3 separate regions of the Homo sapiens genome follow, and regions 2 and 3 are each linked to region 1. Evidence: fine-mapped QTL for protein levels in blood plasma. A gene starts in region 1. Each other region holds a variant in brackets. All regions are shown on one strand. Distances are between the middles of the regions. Region 1 holds the start of RTN4R (reticulon 4 receptor). Region 2 overlaps RTN4R (reticulon 4 receptor). Region 3 has its middle 17 kb from the start of LINC00896.

Evidence for each region. PIP is the posterior inclusion probability: the model's chance that the variant is causal. The UK Biobank Pharma Proteomics Project read protein levels with antibody pairs (Olink). The fine-mapping took linkage between variants from a reference panel, not from the people measured, so its PIPs are less certain.
Region 2: its variant is fine-mapped to the plasma level of the RTN4R protein (UK Biobank, PIP above 0.99).
Region 3: its variant is fine-mapped to the plasma level of the RTN4R protein (UK Biobank, PIP above 0.99).

Annotation. Positions count from the first base shown.
Region 1 is chr22:20,266,098-20,270,142 of GRCh38, reverse strand. RTN4R (reticulon 4 receptor) reads left to right here and starts at 1,825. Exons shown (of 2, transcript NM_023004.6): 1 at 1,825-2,072. The coding sequence starts at 2,051. RefSeq lists silencers at 1,562-1,621, 1,672-1,831, 1,922-2,081 and an enhancer at 2,293-2,981.
Region 2 is chr22:20,244,085-20,248,084 of GRCh38, reverse strand. The region is part of intron 1 of RTN4R (reticulon 4 receptor); the gene reads left to right. Among named protein-coding and RNA genes, the nearest start is that of MIR1286, 3.1 kb to the left of the region's middle. RefSeq lists enhancers at 627-736, 747-796, 643-1,233. The variant C/T (reference allele first, on the strand shown) is at 1,743.
Region 3 is chr22:20,221,541-20,225,596 of GRCh38, reverse strand. No RefSeq gene overlaps it. Among named protein-coding and RNA genes, the nearest start is that of LINC00896, 17 kb to the right of the region's middle. RefSeq lists an enhancer at 1,946-2,613. The variant A/G (reference allele first, on the strand shown) is at 1,981.

The DNA.
Region 1 (4,045 bases):
GCTTTAAACCTATGAGATAGGGTGTGGGGTCACAATCTTCAGCTATAGTGGGCTGCTCTGGGTCACTGGTAATTGAAGAGACGCCTGCGGAGTAAGCAAGCAAGTGTCCTCTCAAGGCCTTTCTGCAAGCACAGAGCAGCCCGAGACTGGAGCCTGGTCCACCCCAGCGCTGTCCTCAGACTGATGGTCAGTGCCACGTGACTCATCTAGGGTCTGATACATCCCTGTGGAGAGAGCTCAGTTCCTAGCCTGGGGGCTGCTGTGTGCAGGGACCCTGGAGAAGAATGCTTGTCTGGGGGTCAGGCCTCAGCCTCCCACTGGCTCTGTGAGCTTCGCCTGAGGTTCCCTATCTGTGCAATGGGTGATGACGTCTTGGTGTGGCTCTGGGAGGACCTGTTGAGCCACCTCAGGGGCTGAGCTGGTGGCACTCGGCAGCCAGCACCCTCTGGGGAGGTGGCAGTGTGTGCACAGCCCACCCCTTCAGGAGGCCAGGGGACAGAGTGGCTGGGGGTGTCTGGGCCCCACCTCACCTTCTGTGTGGCTGGGAATGGCATGCACTCCACAATGCCCTCATAAGCCTAGGCTGGGACAAGGGTGATAGGGATAAAGCAGGCCAAAGTGATGAGGGCCACAGAGCGGCAGCCAGAGGCATGTGGGCAGTGCAGCCTCCACACCAGGCAGAGGGCCCACCCAGCATGGCTCCACCCTGCGAAGCTGCCTGCCACTGGGATCAGATGGGAGCACCAGGGCTCTGGGAGGTCCTCACTTCCTCTGCACAAGGCAGGCAGGTCACCGGCCCTGCGCCCTGCTCATCTCCCTCAGGGCCACCTCCATGGCCAGGGGCAGGCAGAGGGCACAGGGGTGCCCAGTCACCAGGTCTCTCTGCTTCATATCAGTGGACCTGGGCTCTGAGGGGGGCCATCAAGGCATCAGGCTGGCCCACTCCGTCCTTGAGTCAGGGTCCTACAGACTGACACCAGGTGGGCCTGCAAGACCCTCATCTGCATGGTCCTCTCATGCAGGGTGGGCCTGGGGAGGACCCAGCCCGGCTGAGCTGACTCCCAGCACTTCTCCAGGTGCAGGGGCAGCCTGGCAGTTGTCTGAAGACCCCGGGATGCACTTAGGAGCTCATCGGTGAGGCCCGGTAGGTGCCCCGAGCAGAAGATTGAGAAGGGACACCTGCACCCCTGTGTGGTGTGTGCAGGGGCGTCACTGGATTCTCTGGCCCCATGCCTCACACCGCCCGTGGGGGGCTGGCTTGGTAGAGTGGGGGGATACTAAGCAGGTGACCTCGGAGAGCGTCTTCTGGGTTTGGAGCCCCCATTCCGCAGAAGGGAAGAGGTGGGGGACCCCTGCAGGGTTACGGGTAACATCAGGCCTAGGTCCCTTCTCTAGGATGGTGCAGAGAGGGCCACAAAGGCCCAGGAGGGCCCCCAGAACTCTCTTAAGCCCTGAGCCTGTTTCTTACTGAAAAATGGGGGCGATCGTGCTGCAGCAAGGGGCTTCTGTGCAGGGGGCGGGGGATTCATGGGTTTCGTGAGGCCAGGAAGGGAGTGGGTCAGGCAGAGGCCATTCCTAGGCCTCGGGACAAAGCCCTTGCCCGCTTGGGGACCGGGCCAGCCTAGGCCGCCACACCCTCGGGCCCGCGTCCCCGGCCGGCTCCGGCCCGGGCCGCCATCCCCTCCGCCGCCTGCAGGGGCCGCCGCCTCTTCAGGAATGCGCCGCCTTTGTCTGGGACCGCGCGGCGCCGGTGCACCGGGCGGGCTGAGCGCCTCCTGCGGCCCGGCCTGCGCGCCCCGGCCCGCCGCGCCGCCCACGCCCCAACCCCCGCGCCGCCGCCGCCCTCGCCCTGTGCGCCCTGCGCGCCCTGCGCACCCGCGGCCCGAGCCCAGCCAGAGCCGGGCGGAGCGGAGCGCGCCGAGCCTCGTCCCGCGGCCGGGCCGGGGCCGGGCCGTAGCGGCGGCGCCTGGATGCGGACCCGGCCGCGGGGAGACGGGCGCCCGCCCCGAAACGACTTTCAGTCCCCGACGCGCCCCGCCCAACCCCTACGATGAAGAGGGCGTCCGCTGGAGGTGAGTGTCCGCGCTGCACCCGAGCCCGGCCGGCGGCGGGGCGCGGAGGGGGGCGGCTCGCCCCCTCCCCGGAGCCGCAGGGCCCGTCCCGGGCTGCCGAGGCGAGGGAAGCGTAGCCGGGCGGCAGGGAAAGCCACCGCAGTGCCGCGCCAGGCTGGGGCCGCTGGCGCCCCGGCCCCGGGAGGGCGGAGCCGGAGGCGGCAGGAAAAGTTGCCGCTTCCCGGGAAAGTTGACGGCTTCGGCAGGGCCGAGGGTGGCGGTCCGAGGGTCCCCGATGCTGGGCCAAGTCGAGGGCGGGGGCCGTGGGCTGGAAGGGCGGGGCCCGGCCTCGGAGCGCCCCGGCCACCAAGGGGTTAACGAGCGGGTTTTTGCAGAAACGTGGGTACCGAGGGTGGGTGGGGGTGTCGGGCCGCCTCCACCCCAGCCTCACGGTCTGGGCTCAGAACCTCCCGTTTCTCCGAGGTCAGTCCACAGTGGGATGAATGGGGGCGTTGGCGGCAGTAGAGGGCGTGGGGGACAGGGTTGTCCCAGCGCTGCCTCCAGGGCGGGCGGTGAGAGGAGGCAGCAACGCCCGCCATCTGCAGCCCGAGGGACATTGAGAGGCTTGGCTGGGGGAATCAGGGGCGGTGGGGCAATCAGCAACCCCTCCCTAGCAGCCCTCGTGGGACTCCCCCGCCCCACCGGCTGTGAGGTCCCGCGGTGCGGGCAAGGGAGGGTGGGCTCCATGTGAGTTGGGCATGCCCCGCCTGGAGGGTGCTCCCCAGGTGCCCACCCAGGCTGCCCTGCTGATGTCCATGGTGCCGCAGGCTGCACACACGTTTCCTTGCACGTGCACTTGTCTACACGGACTGCACACTTGCACACCTCTGGTGCACATGCAAGCCAACGCCGCCCCAGTGTGCACATGCACAAACACTGGGTGCACACACGGACTCTGAGGGTGCATATCTGTGTCCTCGCCCCCGCCTGCACACCCACGGCCACACATGCATGCACGCGGCATGCCTGCTGTGGTCTCCACGGGTGGCACATGCTGGGGCCCCTTTCGCAATAACCACTCCCGCACCCACATGCTCGTCTGTTGAGTGGGGAGGCCAGGCCCACAGACAGGGGCAAGACATCCTGGGCCCCACCTCTGCCTGCCTGCCTCCGTGTCCTGGGGGTCCCCGCCTCGGGCTTGTGTGCGTGTGTGTAACTTGGTATGCATCTGCACGTGTGTCTGTGCGCGTGATCATGTGTGCCTGCGGGCACATAGGCATGTCTCTTTGCCTCCAGGGTGTGGGTGCCCCTTGTGTGCCTAGACAGGCTGTGGCCTAATCTGGAGCAGAGGCCCTGGAATGTGTGTTGGGGGCTCGTTGAATACCGCAAAGCCCAGGGTGTGAGGGGCAGGGTCTCCCAGCCACTCCCTACCCACCAGGGCTGAGGCAGATAGATGATGGTGGGCTGGAACCTGTCTGGGCAGGGAAGACCCATTTCAGGCCATGAGGTCAACACTGTGACCAACAGGCCAGACCCTGGGCACCCTTGGTGGCCGCTGCAGCTTGGCTGACTGGAGCACGTGACCCAGCGTGACTGCAGAGGCCCCGCCTCCAGTGCCTCAGTTTCTCCATGGTGAGGACCTTCTTGGTGAGGGGTTCTGTGGTGGGCTCCCCTACCTCCGGTGTTGTGTAGGGTGCTGAGCAGATGGATGCCATGCTGCATGATGGGCAAGGGTGGCCCACTAGCACTGTGGCAAGGGCCCTGGGCTGGGGCTTGGATTGGCAGGCCACACCTCCTGCTCCCCTGGCCACCACCAGAGGCTCATCTATAGAGTGGGGACCAGCAGGTTATCCTTGTAGGTTGTGTGAGGGTGAAACATACTAGCAGAGGGGCAGCTGAAGCAGTGGGGCTGGCCAGTCTCTTTTTCTAAGCCTCAGTCTTCCCATCTATAAAGGGGGTACTGTTCCCTGTTCTTCTCTACTGAGGTGAGGAGG
Region 2 (4,000 bases), 22 kb after region 1:
ACCCCCTCCAAGAGAATTTGCTGGATTGAAGGGCCCAGCCTCTGGCCTGGCCTGCTGGCCCTGGACCTACCTACATCTCGTTGTCTCTGGTGAGCCCAGCATCACGGGGCAGGGACGAGCCCTGCCGGCCAGGGCAAAGAGTGGAGCCGAGGGGGCTGAGGAAGCACTAGGCACACTCAGGAGGCCAGTCCTGAAGGCTCTGCCCACACTGGGCCTCAGTTTCCCCCACAGCATGTAGCTAGCTAGGCCTGGAGCTGCTTCAGTCTGGGTCCAGTGACCTCTCACCATGGCAGGTGTCCTTGCCTGTTATTGACCTGGTCTGCCTACCCTGCCCCTGCAGCCAAGATCAACAAGGAGCAGGGGCCAGGGCCAGGGCATCAGGGGCTGGTACTCACTTCCCTAGGAGACTCAGGACCCCTCAAGGGCAGACTGCCCCCACCAGAAGCTGCTGCCAATCTCCTGCCGCAGCACCTGGAGCCCTGGAAGGGCACAGGAAACACCATGGGAATTCTGGCTGCCCCTGCACGTGTCTGTGGGCCTGAGGATGGATGGCGGGTGGGTGTACATGTGAGAAGCAAGCGAGGATCGGGGGACAGATGGGTGGGGGGCGGGGGGAGTGAGTCAGTGGTGGAGGGCCAGGAGTGGGGAGCAGGCGTGGGAGGGGTGCCCTGACCCTCTGTGGTGTGGGGATGACATAGGCCCGCCACCCCCGCCTGGAGCTATTTCTGGCCTTGGTGCACTGAGCTGTGGCCTCCTGTTCTGCCTCATAACTGTGGTCTGTGACGTGACCGCCTGACGGGGACATGGCTGGTGTCCGAGAGGATCCTGAGCTGACTGATGTCCCGGCTGTGCTACAGCTGGTCCCACCCCCAGCCCCAGCCCTCTGCAGCCTCTTACCCCAGCCCTGGGAAGCAGCAGCTCAGAGCCTCCCTGGAGATTCCCCTCCCGGCCACCCATGACACAGGAGGGCGCTGCCTGCCCCTCTGCACGTGGCCTGCAGCCCAGCCCCTCCACACCCTCCCCCATTACTAGCCAGGCCGCCAGCCTTCCTGCTTGGGCAGGACATGCCTCGTGGCCCCTCCGGGCAGCACTGTGAGTGTCTCCCTTGGCCGCCTCTCCACCTGGGTAGTCTGGAGTGGGAGCAGGGCAGGGCTTAACCACTCACTGCCTCAGTTTCCTAATCTGTAAATGTATTGCTGTCTCACTTTTTATAGCAGGTGATGGGACCCTCCGGTGATCCCAGCCCAGGGGCGGCATTGGGGCCCGAGGGCACCAAGCTGTGCGTGGATGAAAGCCGGTGCTCGGCGCCTCCACAGCTGCCTGCCCTGTGCTGCCTCCTGGCATCGCTGGGCAGAGGCAAAGGCATCCCTGTGGAACTTCAGCCCAAGCTTGGGAGGGCACGGAGGTGGGCGGGGCCCCAGGAACAGTGGGGGCCAGGGACCACATGAAGAAGGCCATCCCTGCTCGGCTCGGCTCAGCTCCCTGGGCTGCTGGGGTGAGCTGCTGACCTCAGCAGCCGCCTGCCTGCCCAATGGCTGGGCATATCCCCAGAGCCTCCCACCGCCACCTCCCCATCCCCCTTCTCCACCCCTCCCCTCTGCTCCTGCCCTCCTCGCTCTCCTCCCACCTCCTCCTCCCCCCGCCACACTCCCTCCTGCAGTGAACGTGAACAGCCCTCCACTCACCAGAACTGATGGTGCAGGTGCCCACCTGGGCTGCCTGTTGCTCCCGTCAGGGGGATG[C/T]GTCCTGGACTGTTTGCTGCCCAGCCTCCTGGGCCTTCAGCCTGGTGATCCTGGGTCCTACCCTGCCCAGTCTGGCTGCCGCAGGGAGAGGCTCTGGGTCAGTATCCGGTCACTGTCCCCGCTGGGAAAGCTCAGAGCCTTCCAGGCAGGAGAGCCAGCCCTCCCCTGACTGTGGCTCCTGAGCCAGGCCTGGGCTGAGACAGGAGCTCCTAGCTATGACCCAGCCCTGACAGCCAGCAGGGCCATCCTCCGGGGAGGTCCCAGGAGGAGACCCTGGAGGAAAGAAGAGATGTTAATTGGCCTGGGAGGGTGGGAGAGGCACAGATGTACCAGTTTGTGTGCAGCTTGGAGGCTGAGGAGAGCCCTCTGGGGCCCTCGCAGGCTCAGGTGGCCGCAGGGCCAACCTGGGTGGGGACGGTGGACAGGCACGCTATCCATGGTTTCTCTGTGAGAGCTGGGGCCATGGCAGGGCTGGTTGCTCACCCCGTGTGCAAGGGGCAGGAAGGACAGAGCTCATACTGGAGGCTCCGTGAGAACTGGGGCCAGGGTGAGACTGGGTGAGAGTGGAAAGTGGGGTGATGGCAGGCAGGGAGGCCATGCTATCTCCAGAAGGACAGTAGAGCATCCTATTAGAGTTGGCCAGGCAGATAGAGGAGAGAGAAAGGTGGGCGAGAGGGCCAGAGAGGCCTTGTGGCCTTGAGGCTGCAGAGCCCAGGGGACAGGTCAGGGGCCACGGGCCAGGGAGGTCTTTTGGGGTGGGGAGGGGCTGCAGTCCACCATGGGGCCAGGGAGGAGGCTGGTGAGTCACCAGTCTGGCCCCTGGGATGGGGTCAGAGGACACCCTCCCCCCACCTGGCTGCGTCTCCCTCATCCCAGGGCCCCGGCTGTGAAGACAAACCCATGCTGCAAAGTTGGGTTTGATTATCTCATAAAAAGATGCCCCCTCCTGCTCGCTCAGCAGAGGGGTTGCCATGGAGACCAGCGGGCAGGCCCCAAGGGGGGCCAGGCTGGAGCCAATTACCATGGCTGCAGCGAGGAGAGAGCCCACCTCACCCGACTCTCAGAAGTTGGTTTACGAAAAGCAGTTGTCTCGGCAGGAACCGAGCCGTGTCTTTGCGCCCAATACCCACTTCCTGGCAGAACTGAGCGCCACGTGGCCACTCCCCCATGTCCTCCCCTGTCTCCCCCGACCCCGCACCACCGTGTGGCTCAGTTCTGGCACCTCACTGGGGGCATGTTTAGAGTGGACACACAGCTGCTTCGGGAGGGAGATCCATGAGCACAGGGCTCGGTTCAAGGCGAGTGAGCTGAGCCCTGACCACAGCCAGACTCACAGCCCACAGCTTCGGGCCTGGAGCCACAGGACAGTGGTGGGATGGTGGCATGGCTCAGTGGTAATGTGGCGGGCGTGGCCACCATGGGTGGCTAGTCTTGGTGGGTGCAGTCAGCCGCATGGTATGGTTGGTGACAAGGCTCAGTTGGTGACCCCCACAGTCAGTGGTGTGGTGTGGTCGATAATGTGGCAGTGAGTCCTGACCCTGCCCCATGAGCATGTGGGGCCTCCACCCCACCTGGCCCCAGGACAGGAAGTGCCATTTACATAGCACAGTTTTCCCTCTGGTGACAGCAGGTGAGACAGCAGTGGGGAGCTGACATGGTCAGGCCCCACCTTCCTAGGAAGAGTGTGTAGAAAGAGAGCAGAGAGGGTGTCCGCAGTTTAAACAGAACACGAGGCCAGGTGCTTTCCTCACCCAGCCCACCCAGGGAGGGGCCTCCGGACCCCCATCCCTGGGCTGCCATCTCCCTGGTAGCCAACAAATGGCCCTGGGGCAGGGGGTTTGGCAGAGGAGGCCCCCAGGCTGTGGGGAGGGGGTCTGAGGACCTATGAACCTGAGTCTGGGAGGACGCACATGCCCAGCGGTCACTGCGCGTGCTGGGCTTGCTGGGCTCTGCGTTTAGGGCGACTGCACTGTCTGCCCAAGTAGAGAGGACCCAGTGGGGCAGGGGCCCCATGTGGGTAGGAGGGCCCCAGGGTCACAGTTCTAGGTTGGGGAAGCTGGCCTGTGGTCCACTCCTTCCTCCTGCCCGGCTCCAACCCCAGCACTTAGCCGGCCTCATGTCTGCAGAATCCTGCTCTTAGCCAGCTGCCGTGGAAGGTGTTAGCTGTCAACGCAGGTGTTAGCTGATAACTCAAGTGTTAGCTGATAAGCCATAACCTTCCCAGGGGGATTCACATTTTAATAGACTCACTGCTGAAG
Region 3 (4,056 bases), 45 kb after region 1:
GTGTGCATGTGTGTGCTGCCCATGTTGTGCATGTGTGTGTGTTGCTCTTGTGTGCTTGTGTGTGTGCTGCCTGTTTACATGTGTGAGCGTGCTGCTCATGTGTGCATATGTGTGCGCATGCTGCTCATATGCATGTGTGTGTGCTGCCCATGTTGTGCCTGTGTGCGTGTCTGTTGCTCATGTGTGCATGTGTGTGAGCTTGTTGCTCATAGTGTGTGAGCGTGCCGCTCATCTGTGCATGTATGAGCATGCTGTCCACGTGTGCATGTGTGTGATGTCCGTGTGTGATGTCCATGTGTGCATGTGTGTGTGTGCTGCCCATCTGTGCATGTGTGAGCATGCTGCCCATGTGTGCATGTGTGTGAGCGTGCTGCCCATGTGTACACGTGTGAGTGTGCTGTCCATGTGTGCATGTGTGTGCTGCCCATGTGTGCATGTGTGTGCTGCCCATGTGTGCATTGTGTGTGCTGCTTATGTGTACATGTGTGTGCTGCCCATGTTGTGTGTGTGAGCGTGTTGCTCGCGTGTGTGTGTGCTGCCCATGTGTGCAAGTGTGTGAGCGTGCTGCCCATGTGTGCATGTGTGAGCATGCTGCTTATGTGTACGTGTGTGCTGCCCATGTTCATGTGTGCATGTATCTGAGAGCATGCTGCCCATGTGTGCATGTGTGTGTGTGAGCATGCTGCCCATGTGTGCGTGTGTGAGAGCCTGCTGTCCATGTGTGCGTGTGTGTGTGCTGCCTATGTGTGCGTGTGTGTGTGAGCGTGCTGCCCATGTGTGCGTGTGTATGTGAGCGTGCCGTCCATATGCACGTGTGTGTGAGTGTGCTGCCCATGTGAGCATGTGTGTGTGTGAGAGATCATGCTGCCATATGGGCATTATGTCTATGTCTGTCTGCCTGCCGTGCCATGGTGTGTGCCCTCCTGGGCTCGCCTGTCCTTTCATCTCCATGATGCCCTCTGGTCCCTGGCTCTCCCCCTGTGCCCAGTTCCTTCCTCTCCCCCACCCAGGGTCCCCACTCCACTCCTCAGTCCACCCAGTGCCGATGGGGGAATCAGGGACCAGGATGTGTACCTCTCCAGGCCTGGCTGTGTGACTGGGAGCTGAAGAGCCCTCTCTAGGCCCACTGCAGTTGCACTGTCTCCCAAGTGAGGTCACTTGTGCACCTGACACAGGCTGAGCTCAGCAATTGTGTCCCTGTTGCTCCAGCCCTGGAAGGGGCCCTGAGGATAGGACCAGGGTCAGAGGCAGGCTCTAGGCTGGACAGCTGCCCACACCGCAGGGTGGGCCCAGCACCCATGCCAGACAAAGAGCCACCAAAGGGAGCCACGGAGTGACAGGTGAGAAGAAAACCCCCCAGCTCTGGAAGGTTTGGGTCCCCTCAGCCCCTGCCCCCACAAACAAAAAACCATCCCCGGGCCTGACCACCGCTCGGCTCCTGCGCCCGGCTGGCCCTGCGGCCTCGGTGAAGACAGGAAATCCATACCAGGCTGAGGGATGCTTCCAGCAAGGTCAGGCCCACCGGCGGGAGAGGCAAGTGGGGGCAGCGGGGCGTCGGTTCGGCGGCAGGCCCAACTGCCTCCCCTTACGCGGCTCCCAGGCTTAAATCAGGCCAAGGTGTCCAGGCTAGCTCCCATCAGGCCTTCTGAGTACACCAAGCTGGGCCATCGCAGAGCCAGGTCCCGCCAGGCTCTGTCCAGCTTTGCTGGGTCTCCAGCACACAAACCCTGAGCCTGGGGCCCAGCTGGAGCCCTGGCAGCCCGGGTCCTCACACATGGGCAGCAGGGATGCGGGTTCCACTCCACGTCCCAGGAGCCAGCACAGGGGCCAGGACGCGAGAGACCTTGCTAACCAGGACGGAGCCACCCAGCAGAGATGGAGCCTCACTCTCCTGCCGCCCCCTGCAGCCTCTTCCCCATCCCTGACCTGCCCCAGGGGCTGGCGGAGCTTCAAAGGCCCCTGCTGGGGTTCCACTTGACC[A/G]CCTCAGGGCACAGCTCATCTCCTGCCCAGGAGCTGTCGCCCTGGATACCACCTGCACCCACAGCAGCTCAGAGAGGCTTCCTCTCAGCCTCCCAGACCCCCTGCTCAGGCAGGTGACTGATGGGATCAGCATCCCTTCTCCCCAGGAGACCAGGCAGCCAGCTCGGGGGCATTTATGGATAAATAAACGAATGAATGAACAAAAGAACAAATGCTCCAGGCCTCCCCACAGAGATAGGGCTGCCCCAGGTGACTGCAGGAGGAGGGGCTCCCGGGCCCTGAGGATGGGGAGCTCAGTCCACAGGGCCCTGGACCGAGCTTTGTTCACAGTTCCTATCAGTGCCCAGGATCAGTGACAGGACAGCGATGCCCAGTGTGGGCTCAGGTGCCCGAGGCCTGGCACAAATTTCCCTGCTGCACACAGCTGGGCAGGGTGTGCCATATAGTCTGCTGGAGAGGTGGAGGCAGAGGGAGTGGAGGCTCCTGCTGCTGTTTCCCAAGTTGCTCCCATCTGCCCCTGACTGCCTGGCAGGCCGGCCCTTTCTGGTGTGGCACCACCACATGGCTGGTTCTGGCTGCTGGGGCATGCATGGCACGCCTAGGTTCCGGCAAGGCCTGCAGCCTCCCTCTCTCCCTCTGTCTGGGATCCAGCAGCATCTGAGAGGGTGGCTGGGTCATCAAATGACTTAGAACAGGGCCTCACCCACCCACCCTGTGGGGGTTTGCCAGGCCCCTGGCCTGGGTGCCCAGACATGTAGCCACTGTCCTCTGGTGCTGGCCAGAGTGGCCTCTGTCCCCATTTCTTTCCTCCAAGAGGTGGCTCTGCTGCCCAGCCAGCCCCTCCTGCTGCTCCCTCCCTCCTCCAGGTCAGACCCCAAGCCATTCCCCAGGCTGACTAAGGAGGGGTGCAGACTGCCCCCTGTGCCTGCCTGGTGACCAGTGCCCACTGTGCACTCCCCCAGGCCAGCCGAGCCTGGCACACACTGGGTGCTCCCTAAATACCCATGGAGGATATCACAGCCACCCCCATTTTATTCAGGGGTCACCAGCTCCCTGCCCTTAAGGCCAGGCTTTCCCTGAGCCCGAGTCTTATTTGGAGGGAGGTGGGGGCCACGCCTGCAAAGCCATGTTTTCATTAGCAAGCGATGAATAATTAATGCCACAGCGCCTTTGAGAACTGTTTTGGTTTTTATTTTAAACATTTTTTTCTATGTATAGAAACAGCACTTCCGTTAGGCACCAAATTTATTTTTTAATAAACGTGGCAGTTATTTATTCAATCCCTGGTGCTCCCTGGAGTGGCTGGCACGAGGGCGAAGAGAACTTGCCAGGGCACCATTGGCAGCCTCCACCATGTGCCCGCCTAGCCCCCGCTGTGCATGGCCAAGGTGGAGGACACACGGCAGAGGGCAGAGGTCGGTAAGCAAGGCCCGGCCAGAGGCCAGAGCTGCAGTGCAGTTGCACAGTGGCCAAGCCCTGTGGCACACTGGGGCCCTGCCTGGGTCCTCAAGCTTCCCTGCCTGGGTCCTCAAGCTTCCCAGCCTGGAATGGGGTGATGGTGCAGGGGGCCCCAGGTCTGAACACGCTGCCCAGGTATTCTAGGCAGAGGCTGGGAGCTCCCCTCAGAGAGATGCCAGGAGGCACACAGAACCCGGCAGAGCCACTTGTCCCAGGAGGGCAGGCTGAGCCAGCCACGAAGTACAAGGCCAAGCTCCGCACCACCCACCAGGCCCACCTCTCTTTGTGCACAGAGCCTGGGACCAGAGCTGAGGCCCAGAGAATTCATGGGCTCCGTAATTCTCCAGGTCGAGAGGCAGTCAGTGTTGATTTCTTGGCTCTTCAAGTCCATCCACAAATCCCATTACTTGGTGCTTTCTCAGAAATTAAGTCGGAAACACTTTTAGTTTTAAATTACAAGTCGAGGAGAGTTTGCACAGCAGAAGACAAACAGTATGTTGACACTCTCCAAATGCACCTTCCCTGGCCAACTGCCACAGCACATGAGCCCTCTGACCCATCCACAGCCAGGGGCCAGGGAGTGGACATCCCAGCTCCATGGCCACCTGCCCACTGCCC